Regions from separate parts of the Homo sapiens genome. Here region 1 is linked to region 2. Evidence: fine-mapped expression QTL. Tissue or cell type: cerebellar hemisphere. Region 2 holds a variant in brackets; the other region holds the start of a gene. All regions are shown on one strand. Distances are between the middles of the regions.

Region 1 (5,153 bases), 820 kb after region 2:
CCATTAAAAGGCCAGGACAACTTCTGTAATAATGTCTAGAAAAATGGACTCAGAGTTCCAATTTGCAAGGCTGTGAACTCATTTCCAGCGATAAGCAAGAAGCAACTTTGCCTCAAATATAAAGGACTTCAACAGTGTACAGTAATTATATTTCAATGCTATATTATTTATTTTTTAATTTGCTTATATGATAAAACTAGGAAGACCTGGCTTTGGTTACATAGTTCCCTCTGACCTCTTAGTTTGCTAATTTCTGATGTTTTTATCTTTAAACAGCGTTTCTATGCTCAATTTGGCACGTCTTGCTTCCATGTAAGTCATAACATCCATGAAATTAATGATTCAAAAACCCTTGGTCACTTGGCGATCAGAGCTTTACCCATCCAATTTCTTTTTCCTCTTGTGCTCAAAAACTCGAGGCCACCACCTCTCACTGCATCTCCAGCACTGGGAAACCTTAGGGTTGTTTTTAAATCCCTTCTTCATCCTTACGTCTAATCAATCATTTCTCTCTCCTGGGTGTTTCCTGAAGCTGCATTATCCTAACGATTACTAGCACAGCAGTCAAGGCTGTAGCCTAATGGCTGCTCACCTGGACTATAACCACAGACATCCACCTGAAGCCTCCTCCTTTCTTCTTGCTTGCTCTATCTAGAAGCTTCCTCCTTTCTTCTTGCTTGCTCTGTCTAAACCTTTTCTCCACACAGCCGCCAGAGAATTCTTCCTGAAAGGATAAGCTGATATGCCACTCCCAAGCCTAACTTTTATTGCTCCCATTGCCTGTAGGCTGAGAGTAAGCTCTCCATAGGGAATCTAAGGGTTTCCTTGATAACTTCATCCCCGCTTATCTCTCCAGCTTTATCTTTTTTAACTTCCTGCCTCAAAATCTTATGCCTGAGCAACAAGAAGTGCTTGAAATTCTCTGAGGACAATACACTGTTTCTCACTTCCCTCCCTTTGTTCCCACTATTCCCTTTGCTTGCAATGCAACTTTCTGGATTTTCCCATAATACATCGTCATGCACCCTGTAAAAGGCAGCCAGGCACCACCCACCCTAGGAAGTCTTGCTTGACTAACACAGGCTGGGTTTGATGCTCTTTTCTCGTGCTTCTTTAGTAGTCTGTTCCTCCCTTTATCGTGTGAGTTCCTTATGTGTAATAACTGTCTTATTTATCTTTGTACCCCTCAATGCTCAGCAGAGAATAAGTACTCAGTAAATATTTGATGAACAAACGAGTTGTGCAGAATCTGAAAACCTGCAGTATTTTATTTTAATTGAGCACAGTTTTTCAGACTGTATGGTTTTTATATACATTCTATTGGTTTTAAATAACATTTTCTATAATATGCTTATTTTTATAGAATTAATTTTCTTTTAAAAAGGTTTTTAGTTAAAGAGGATGGTTAGAAGCAGCCACTAAGAAGGTTAAATGACGTATATTTATTACTTAAATCCTTGATTGTCCCTGTGGATTCTCCACTCTATGAGTGTGGAGATACTTTTAAATTTAATTACATTTAATTTTTATTTTCTGACAGAGCCTAATATAGCTGAAAGAATTAGAGTTGATCTTCAAATATGGCTTTGATGCTGATAACTTGGGAAACTATTGAACAGAGATAGTTGCCTGCATTAAAAATAAATGTGCTGGGATAAACCTTCCACACACTGAGATGACCTGGAAGAGTCTCAGAACACGTTCTTATTGGAGAACTTAGTCCTGCCACATCAGTAGTGGATTGAAGCATTTTCCCTATAAAATCTGTGTAACTGACTTGTTTTACTTTACTTTTAGAGATAGCCAGTATGTGGCAACATCGATAACTCTTTTCTAAATCATTTTTATGTCATGTGCTTCTATTTTTAAAACTAAATTTTGTAAAACTGAATTAGTAACACATTCTGGCAAAAACCAAATGCAAAACATTTTATAATGTTGTAACATGTAAATAATCTACAGAATTTTCTTGCATCTGCCAAGACTGAATTATTTTACATTAAGTATATTTTTAAGGTGTAGTGGCAAGTACATCCAGAAGAAAGGGATTTAATAGGCATTTTCTTGCAAATCTAGTTACGGGTAACTATTGAAATTGCTTGTCATGTGTTTGATTTTCATTTTCCTTAGAATGTGTTACTTTGCTGAAACTGTATTCAAAGGCTGGATCAATTGATCTCCTGCAAGATACACTTGAAGGTTAAGTAACTACAGATCTCAGCTAATCCCGTGTAATCTGCTGTTACTAAATGGCTGTTTGTATTCCAGGCATACCAGGTTCTGAATGCTTAGGATTCGGTTTTTACCTTTTGTTTAAATAACCTCTAAAAGGAGCAATGCATCTCTTTGCATGTCTGTGCATTGTCCTTAGCTTTTTGGAAGGAGTGGGCTGTTTGTGTCCTTCACAGTGCACCTGTGATTATCACGGCAGAAATGACGGCTCAGGATCAAGGTATGCTCCTCTGCTTGTTACTAAGTGTTCTCATTATTTTGACAAAAAGGACCCAAACAAGAAAGCCTACTTTTGAAAGCAAATGTTTGGGGATCAGAAATCACAGAAGAGAATGTTTAGTGTCCATAAGCTTTAACTTAATTGTTTTAACACTGGTCACCTACTCCTTCACTGTTTTCGTTTTGAGCAGTTTAACTCTCAAAGGCCTCTCAAGGTATTGGAAATTTCTAAACACATTCTATGTTCCAAAATTTTTATTATGCTCATGTTCACAAATTGTTGCTTGAGATCAAACGATTTAAAGGTGCATGGCCAGCTAAGCCCTTGATTATAGAAAGGCTAAGAGGGCAGGCTGAACAGGAGCTGCGTGACATGCTCAGATCCTTTGCTTTCATGGCTCTCCACTTCCTTTGAGAACTATTCATGCCAATTGAATGGCAGAAAGAAAGATCTCAAGAGTGAAGTTAGAGAGGTTAATAGTTAGAATTTTTCATTTTAAGCTGATGGAATTTACAAAATAAAGAAGATTGAAAAAGATACTGTCTGTTTCAGACACTGCAGGATCTCACAGAAGTTATTCAATCTCTAGGTTGCTTTAGCATCTACTTGTGTAGTGAGAAGAGTTATTTACTTATATTGTGCATGAGGCCTTTTAGATATGTTAAATGCAAAACAGAACTCTTGCTAGCTAAACACAGTAGAACTTGAATTTTTTTTTTGAGAGGTTATTTAATAACAAAATCAGGTTATTTGTGACTTGGTTGAAGTAAACGGTGTCTCAGATAAAATAATTTGTTAAAAGAGTTGCCCAATTTATGTCTTATAACTTTAAACAAATAAATAATAATAAATAAGACATATTTGTGAAAAGCTTATCTTGTTATTGTATAAACTTTAGTTAACCAATTCTTGGTATTTTTTGAGATATTCACTGGGTGGTTAAAGACAATGAAGAGAATGTAGCAAGTTAAAGACCTACTTGTCCAGGGACGTGTAGCAGTGAAGGATCAGGCCAGGGTACTTTTGAGAAACTATCACAGAAATGTTTCCTTCTTTGTGGTGACCCCATTATTGATGGATTTTATAAAAATTATAGAATATTAGGCCTGGCAAGAAATAATCTAGTTCAACCCCTTGTCAGTTTATAAGTGAAGAAACTAAACTGTATGGAGACCAAATGACTTGTCCTAGATCATATAATTGTGTTGATGTAGTAACTAAGTTCATAAAGATGCTAGATCTTTTAGCGTACAAACTAGACTTTCTTCTATGATAGCATGCTGAGATACTTATTTTATTTATTTATTTATTTTGAGACAGAGTCTCACTTTGTCAGCCAGGCTGGAGTGCAGTGGCACAATCTCGGCTCACTGCAACCTCCATCTCCCGGGCTCAAGCAATTCTCCTGCCTCAGCCTCCCAAGGAGCTGGGATTACAGGCGTGTGCCACCATGCCCAGCTAGTTTTTGTATTTTTAGTAGAGATGGGGTTTCATCATGTTGGCCAGGCTGGTCTCAAACTCCTGACCTCAGGTAATCCACGCACCTCGGCCTCCCAAAGTGCTGGGATTACAGGCGTGAGCCACCGCACCCGGCCAATACTTTCTTAATGAGTAGAAACTGCTACCATTCTGGTATAAAGTAGTACTGAAATCTGTGATATAAAATAGAGATGAAAAGTAAGAGATATCCCTAGAGGATTTCAAAGATTCCATGAGGTCTTTTCCTGAAGTTATAGAAAGGACATAACACTACCACTACATTGCAGCTTTATGCTGCTTACGTGTGTATACATTATGAGCTGGTTTTTCAAATCCACTGATTTAATGTCATATGTTTCACTAAAGGGTTATTTTATTGTAATTATTTACTAAATTTATAGTGTGCTATAATTTAGATGATACTTTGCAAAACTTCTTATTGTTCATTTTTCATAATTCAGATGAGTATCTCATAGGAGATAAGTCTTTTTCCAGGCTAAAATGAATCTAAATTCTCAGATTCCTCATACTTTAAATTTACACATGGGACAGTGTTGTCTTCCTTCCTTCCTTCCTTCCTTCCTTCCTTCCTTCCTTCCTTCCTTCCTTCCTTCCTTCCTTCCTTCCTTTCTTTCTTTCTTTCTTTCTTTCTTTCTTTCTTTCTTTCTTTCTTTCTTTCTTTCTTTCTTTTCTATTTTGAGATGGAGTCTCGCTCTGTCACCCAGGCTGGAGTGCAGTGGCGTGATCTTGGCTGACTGCAACCTCTGCCTCCCAGGTTCAAGCGATTCTCCCACCTCCGCCTCCTGAGTAGGTAGGATTACAGGTACCTACCACCGCGCCTGGCTAATTTTTGTATTTTTAGTGGAGTCGGGGTTTCGTCATGTTGGCCAGGCTGGTCTCAAACATCTGACCTCAGGTGATCTGCCCACCTTGACCTCCCAAAGTGCTGGGATTACAGCCATGAGCCACATTGCCCAGCTGGGACATTGCCCAGTGTTGTTTTTCTATGCCTGTTTTATATGTGCCAACAAACAAGATCAAAATGTGACTTGCTCAAGGTCAACTCCTAATTTCTGGTTTATTCCTTAGGCAGAAAGCAATGTGCAAGTCACGTTATTAAAACAGAGTTCAACTTTAAACATGTACTGTGAACACTTTTTTTTTTCACCTAAATAAATTATTCTCTGAACAAGGATTGATTTATTATTTTAACAGGGGGTTC
Region 2 (5,153 bases):
TATTTAAGTTTTTTATGCTTCTCTAAATTTTACTAGCCCCATCTCATGATTACAAAAATATATTGTCACATGATAACTAATTAACTGCAGAAAACTTTTAAACCCTTAATTAAGTTGTTAATTTTTTTCCATATTAGTCATTTACTCAAAGATCTAGGTCAATGATTTTTGAATTCGAGTTTCTTTCTTCCAATTCAGGGTGTTTTTAATTACTTGGAAGAATGTTGCAAAATGCTTAAGATATGCTCTCAAAAATTCAGTAAGTAAGGGTTTTAAATCTACCTTTCTGTATGCCACATATCACTTTTGGAAGTAGGAATAAAGAAAGGGGCAGAAGAGTTATACAGTTAAACACCAGCGAGAAGAGGTCATGACTCCACATCAACTGGGGATCCCTGCTAGGCATAGAGGCCCTTGGATCCTTTGCTGTTTTGCAAACCAAAATATCTGGGTTGTAATTTAACTGCATTATTTTATGGAGTTGTATAAATAACTTACACTTTTGACTATAAATGTTTGTCAAGCTTCTAAAACATCTTGCTTATCCAAGCCTTTTCACCAGCTGGCATGGAATCAGGATTGGCAATCAAGGTGTAAGTAAATGATCAGTTTTACAGACATGTTTAGTAGGATACAATAAACATATATGAAGTACCTCTGAAAAGAGACCTGCTCAGCTTCCATTGCTTTAAAAACACATACCTAGGCAATTTTTACTGCCCTACCAATTTTTATTACACTGTATATATTGAGTAATTTGGTTTCTGCTATGTTTAATAACATTCTTAATGTGTGCTATGTTGATTGTTCCAGATAAATACTGGAAGCCAATTTATAAACATCTTTCAGTCTGATTAAATTTATATGTGCCCAATTCTGATTTTCTAAATATTGTGCACAAAGACAGACTTGACAATGCTCTCTGCAGCTGTCCTAGATGTTTCACATTAATAAATGCATGCTAGCAGATTTCTAACACCCAGAGAGTCAATTAATTTATAATGCATGAGTCACATCATGCTTACTGCTTCACTAAAGCAGAATCCTAAAAATGAAGCCTGTTTTAAAATGAGGGAGGAGAGGCTCTGCAAGCTGACAAGCTTATGTTCTTGAGGGACCCAGATGTTTGTGGCTGAATCGTAATAGCTACCACTTACTGACCACTACACAACACCAAGAGTTTTACAAATGTCATCTCTCTTTGTTACAATAACCCTGCAAATTAGGGGTCATTTCTACCATTTTGCAGTTGAACAAACCAAGTTTCAGAGAGGTTAAATAACGTTTCCTTAGTCAAACAGCTTCTAAAAGGGGAAGTTCAAACTATGAACATGGGTTTATTTGACTTGGACCCTTTTGAGCTCTCACTTGTGTCATGCTGGCTGCCCATGGGCTTGGGCAAGATTACCCCGAGAAAGAAAGTAGCAGTCATTCTTAGCCCTCTTAGGAACTGGATAAAAGCTATAGCTGCAGTGGTTAGAAATATCCACATATAAAACACTTTGCACACACACACACACACACACACACACACACACACATATACTCTTAAATTAGTTCGCGGGTTCTCTAGGAAATAATTCACCTGGGTTAAGAACCCCTGACTAGGGGTAATGTAATGTAATGTAAATATTTCAAGAGTAGGAGAGGAAAAGTGTTCCAAAATGGAAACTGAGGATAAAAAAAACCTAAAAACAATGACAACAAAATTAGAGTTACAGAAATCAAGATTGGAGAGAATTTCAAGAAGGCAAATTGATTAAAACAAGGAGTCCATTGCATTTAACAAGTAGAAAGTTGGAATTTGTATTGTAATTGATTAAGCAGTGAGGTGAGGAAATTAAGAAAAGAATAAGCTCCGTAGATGGCAAGCAGGCGTTATATGAAGTGTGAACTCTGGTTATTAACGACTGCCTGGAATAACATGTTTAAAGGTTCAGAGGCTGGTTATAGACTTGGGAAAAGGGTGTGGGATTGATAGGGAATGTCTACAGACAGCAACAGTGGAAAACATGTGTGCCGACGATTTGCTAGCCCAAGTAGACACCTCTTTTTAGTAACTGTGCATGAAGAAAAGAAATAGGAGAGTAGCTAAAAGGCATATAGGGTTAAGGAAAATTTTTCTTGCTTGTTTTTGTGGTAAGATGGGAGGTACTTGAAAATGTTTACAAACGGACAGGACATAGAGAAAAGAAATGGCTTGCAGAGCAGTATCAGCATGCAAGAGAACACAAAAGGAAGTGGAGTCAGAGAAGAAGAATGCGGAGAAAGAACACCATCTTATATAAGATGAGAAGAAAGAAAGTGAGAATAAATACAGATCAATTTGCTGTACAGAGGCAGAAAATGGATGTATTCCATTCCTTAAATCTCAGAGGACTCTGAAATAGAAGTCTGCTAGGGATGGGGCAGATGTGAGAGGAATAAAATTGATTATTTATTCATTCACATAATATTTGTTGAGTACCTACAGTGTGCAGGCATTCTTCAGGTACTAGGACTATAATAAATATGGTAGCTAAAACAAAGCCCCGCTATCACTTTTGTGGGAGAAGCAGGCTTTAAGAGAATGTTTATGAATAATGTGGCAGACAGCGATAAGGACTCAGCAGGAAAGTACATGAGGATAAGGAGGCTAGAGAACAATTCAATGGGAGGGCGCTATTTTACAGGGTGGTCATGGGGGGGCCTTGAATGGAAAAAAGGAGGAAAAACAAACAGCAAGTGGTAATGCTCTGTAAGATGGAGGTGTGCTTAGCGTGTCCAGCAACTGACAGTGC[G/A]TCTGGACTACAGTGAGTGAGGAAAAAGAGTAAGGAGGAAAGTTACAGAGCAGGAGGGAGGAGATCAGAGAGACTTTGCAGGTCATGATAAGAACTTGGCTTTTAATCAGGATGAAATAGAAAGCCATGGCGAGGAGGTTCTGCACAGAGAAAGGACACAATCTGAATTATATTTGAAAAGGATCATGTCCACTATCGGGAAAAGGCAGTAGAAAGGCAGGGGTGTACAGATGGAGAGATGTTAGGAGGCTTTTGTAGCATTCTAAGTGAAAGATAAAGGATGGGATGGGCCAGGGTAATAGCAACCAAGGAGGTAAAAAGTGGTCAGTTTCTGGTTCAAGACTTGCAACTAGATTGAATGTGGGGTGTGAGAAAAAAGAGCAGTAAAAAATGACTCCAAAGGTTGACCAGAGCAATTAGAGCAGTGGAGCTGCTCTTTAGTGATGTGTGGAAGATCTGGAAGAGGAGCAGCTTTGGAGAGTAAGGGTGGAATTCCAGCATTTGGTTTTGAACATGCTAAATTTGAGATCTCTAGGAGACATCCATGTGCAAACGTTGAATAGATAGTTGGATATGCAAGTCCAAAATTCTGAGAGTTCAGACTGGAGATATACATTTGGGAGACTTTGACACATAGATAATAGTTAAAGCCATGAGATTATATGAGATCATCTAATGAGGCAATGTAAATAAGGAAGAAGAAAGGTCCAAGTTCTGAGCCATCAGGCATTTCAAAATTCATTTATTTATTCATTCATTCATTCACTGAGACAGAGTCTCACTTTGTCACCCAGGCTGGAGTGCAGTGGTGCAATCAGAGCTCATTGCAGTCTCACACTCCTCCCACTTCAGTCTCCCCAGTAGCTAGGACTACAGCCACGTACCACCACACTCAGCTAATTTTCTATTTTTTTGTAGAGACAGGTTCTTGCTATGCTTCCCAGGCTGGTCTTGAACTCCTGGGCTCAAGTAATCCTCCTGTCTTGGCCTCCCAGTGTGCTGGGATTACAAGCATGAGCCACCATGCCCTGCCCATTCCAACATGTAGAAATCATGAAGAAGAAAAAGGGGCCAGGCCCAGTGGCTCATGTCTGTAATCCCAGCACTTTGGGAGGCAAAGGCAGGCAGATCACAAGGTCAAGTGATCAAGACCATCCTGGCCAACAAGGGTGAAACCTCATCTCTACTAAAAATACAAAAATTAGCTGGGCATGGTGGCATGCACCTGCAGTCCCAGCTACTTGGGAGGCTGAGGCAGGAGAATTACTTGAACCCAGGAGGCGGAGGTTGCAGGGGGCCGAGATTGTACCACTGCACTCCAGCCTGGCGACAGAGCGGGACTCCATCTCAAAAAAAAGAAAAAAAGAAAAAGAAAAGAAAAGAAAGAAAAAGGACTAGCTAGCAAGGGAGGAGTGGTGAGTAAGGTAGGAGGAGCACCTTGAAAGAGTGATAAGAACAAGGAGATAAACAGAGAAAGTGTTTCAAGAAGACACCAATTCACTGTGTTGAATGTGGTCCAGCAAAGTTGGAACTGAATTCTGACCACTAAATTTGTCATAATAAAGGTAACCAGTGCCCTTAAGAAGAATGTTTTCAGTACAGTGGTAGAGATGGAGGCCATGTTAGATTAGAGAGAGAGTGGGAAAACAATATTTGATGAGTGTGGGCAACTCTTTCCAGAGTTTCATTGTAAAAGGGAGTGGGAGCTATAAAGAAATGGAACAGCATCTGGGAAACATATGGGGTCAAGGAAGTTTCATTTTGAGGACAAAAGATATTATGGCATAATTCTATGCTAATGAAATTATCCAAAAGAGAGGAAAAACCAATGATACAGGAGGGAGGCAATACCTAAGTTTTAAGTTGCACACCATTCTGAGTAGTGGGATGAAATCTCATGCCATCCCACTCCATCCCGCCCAATACATGAATCACCTCTTTGTCTAATGTATCTATGCTGTATATGCCACCTGCAGAAGGTCAATAGTAGCCTAACGCTACGTCAACAATGCCCACGTCATTCACCTCACTTCCTCTCACCATGTAGGCATTTTGTCATCTCACATCATCACAGGAAGGGCGAGTACAGCACAGTAAAATATGTTGAGAGACCAAATTTATATAACTTTTATGGTAGTATATAGTTATAATTGTTCTATTTTATTATTGTTGTTGTTCATCTCTTACTGTAGCTAATTTATAAGTTAGACTTTATATAGGTGTATGTGTGTGGTATATGTGTATACATATTTGTAGGAAGAAACATATACGTATAGGATTTGGTGCTATCCGCAGTTTGAGGCATCCACTGAGGGTTTTGGAACATATCGCCTTGGACAAGAAGGAACTACTATGTAAAAATAATATGGATAA

Evidence for each region. PIP is the estimated chance that this variant, and not a neighbour inherited with it, causes the effect.
Region 1: it holds the start of LRIT3, and the variant in region 2 is fine-mapped to the expression of LRIT3 in cerebellar hemisphere (GTEx, PIP 0.96).

Annotation. Positions count from the first base shown.
Region 1 is chr4:109,845,866-109,851,018 of GRCh38, forward strand. LRIT3 (leucine rich repeat, Ig-like and transmembrane domains 3) reads left to right here and starts at 2,242. Exons shown (of 4, transcript NM_198506.5): 1 at 2,242-2,452. The coding sequence starts at 2,337.
Region 2 is chr4:109,024,596-109,029,748 of GRCh38, forward strand. All of the region lies in intron 5 of COL25A1 (collagen type XXV alpha 1 chain), which reads right to left. All of the region lies in intron 1 of LOC124900756 (a long non-coding RNA gene), which reads left to right. Among named protein-coding and RNA genes, the nearest start is that of ETNPPL, 260 kb to the left of the region's middle. The variant G/A (reference allele first, on the strand shown) is at 2,781.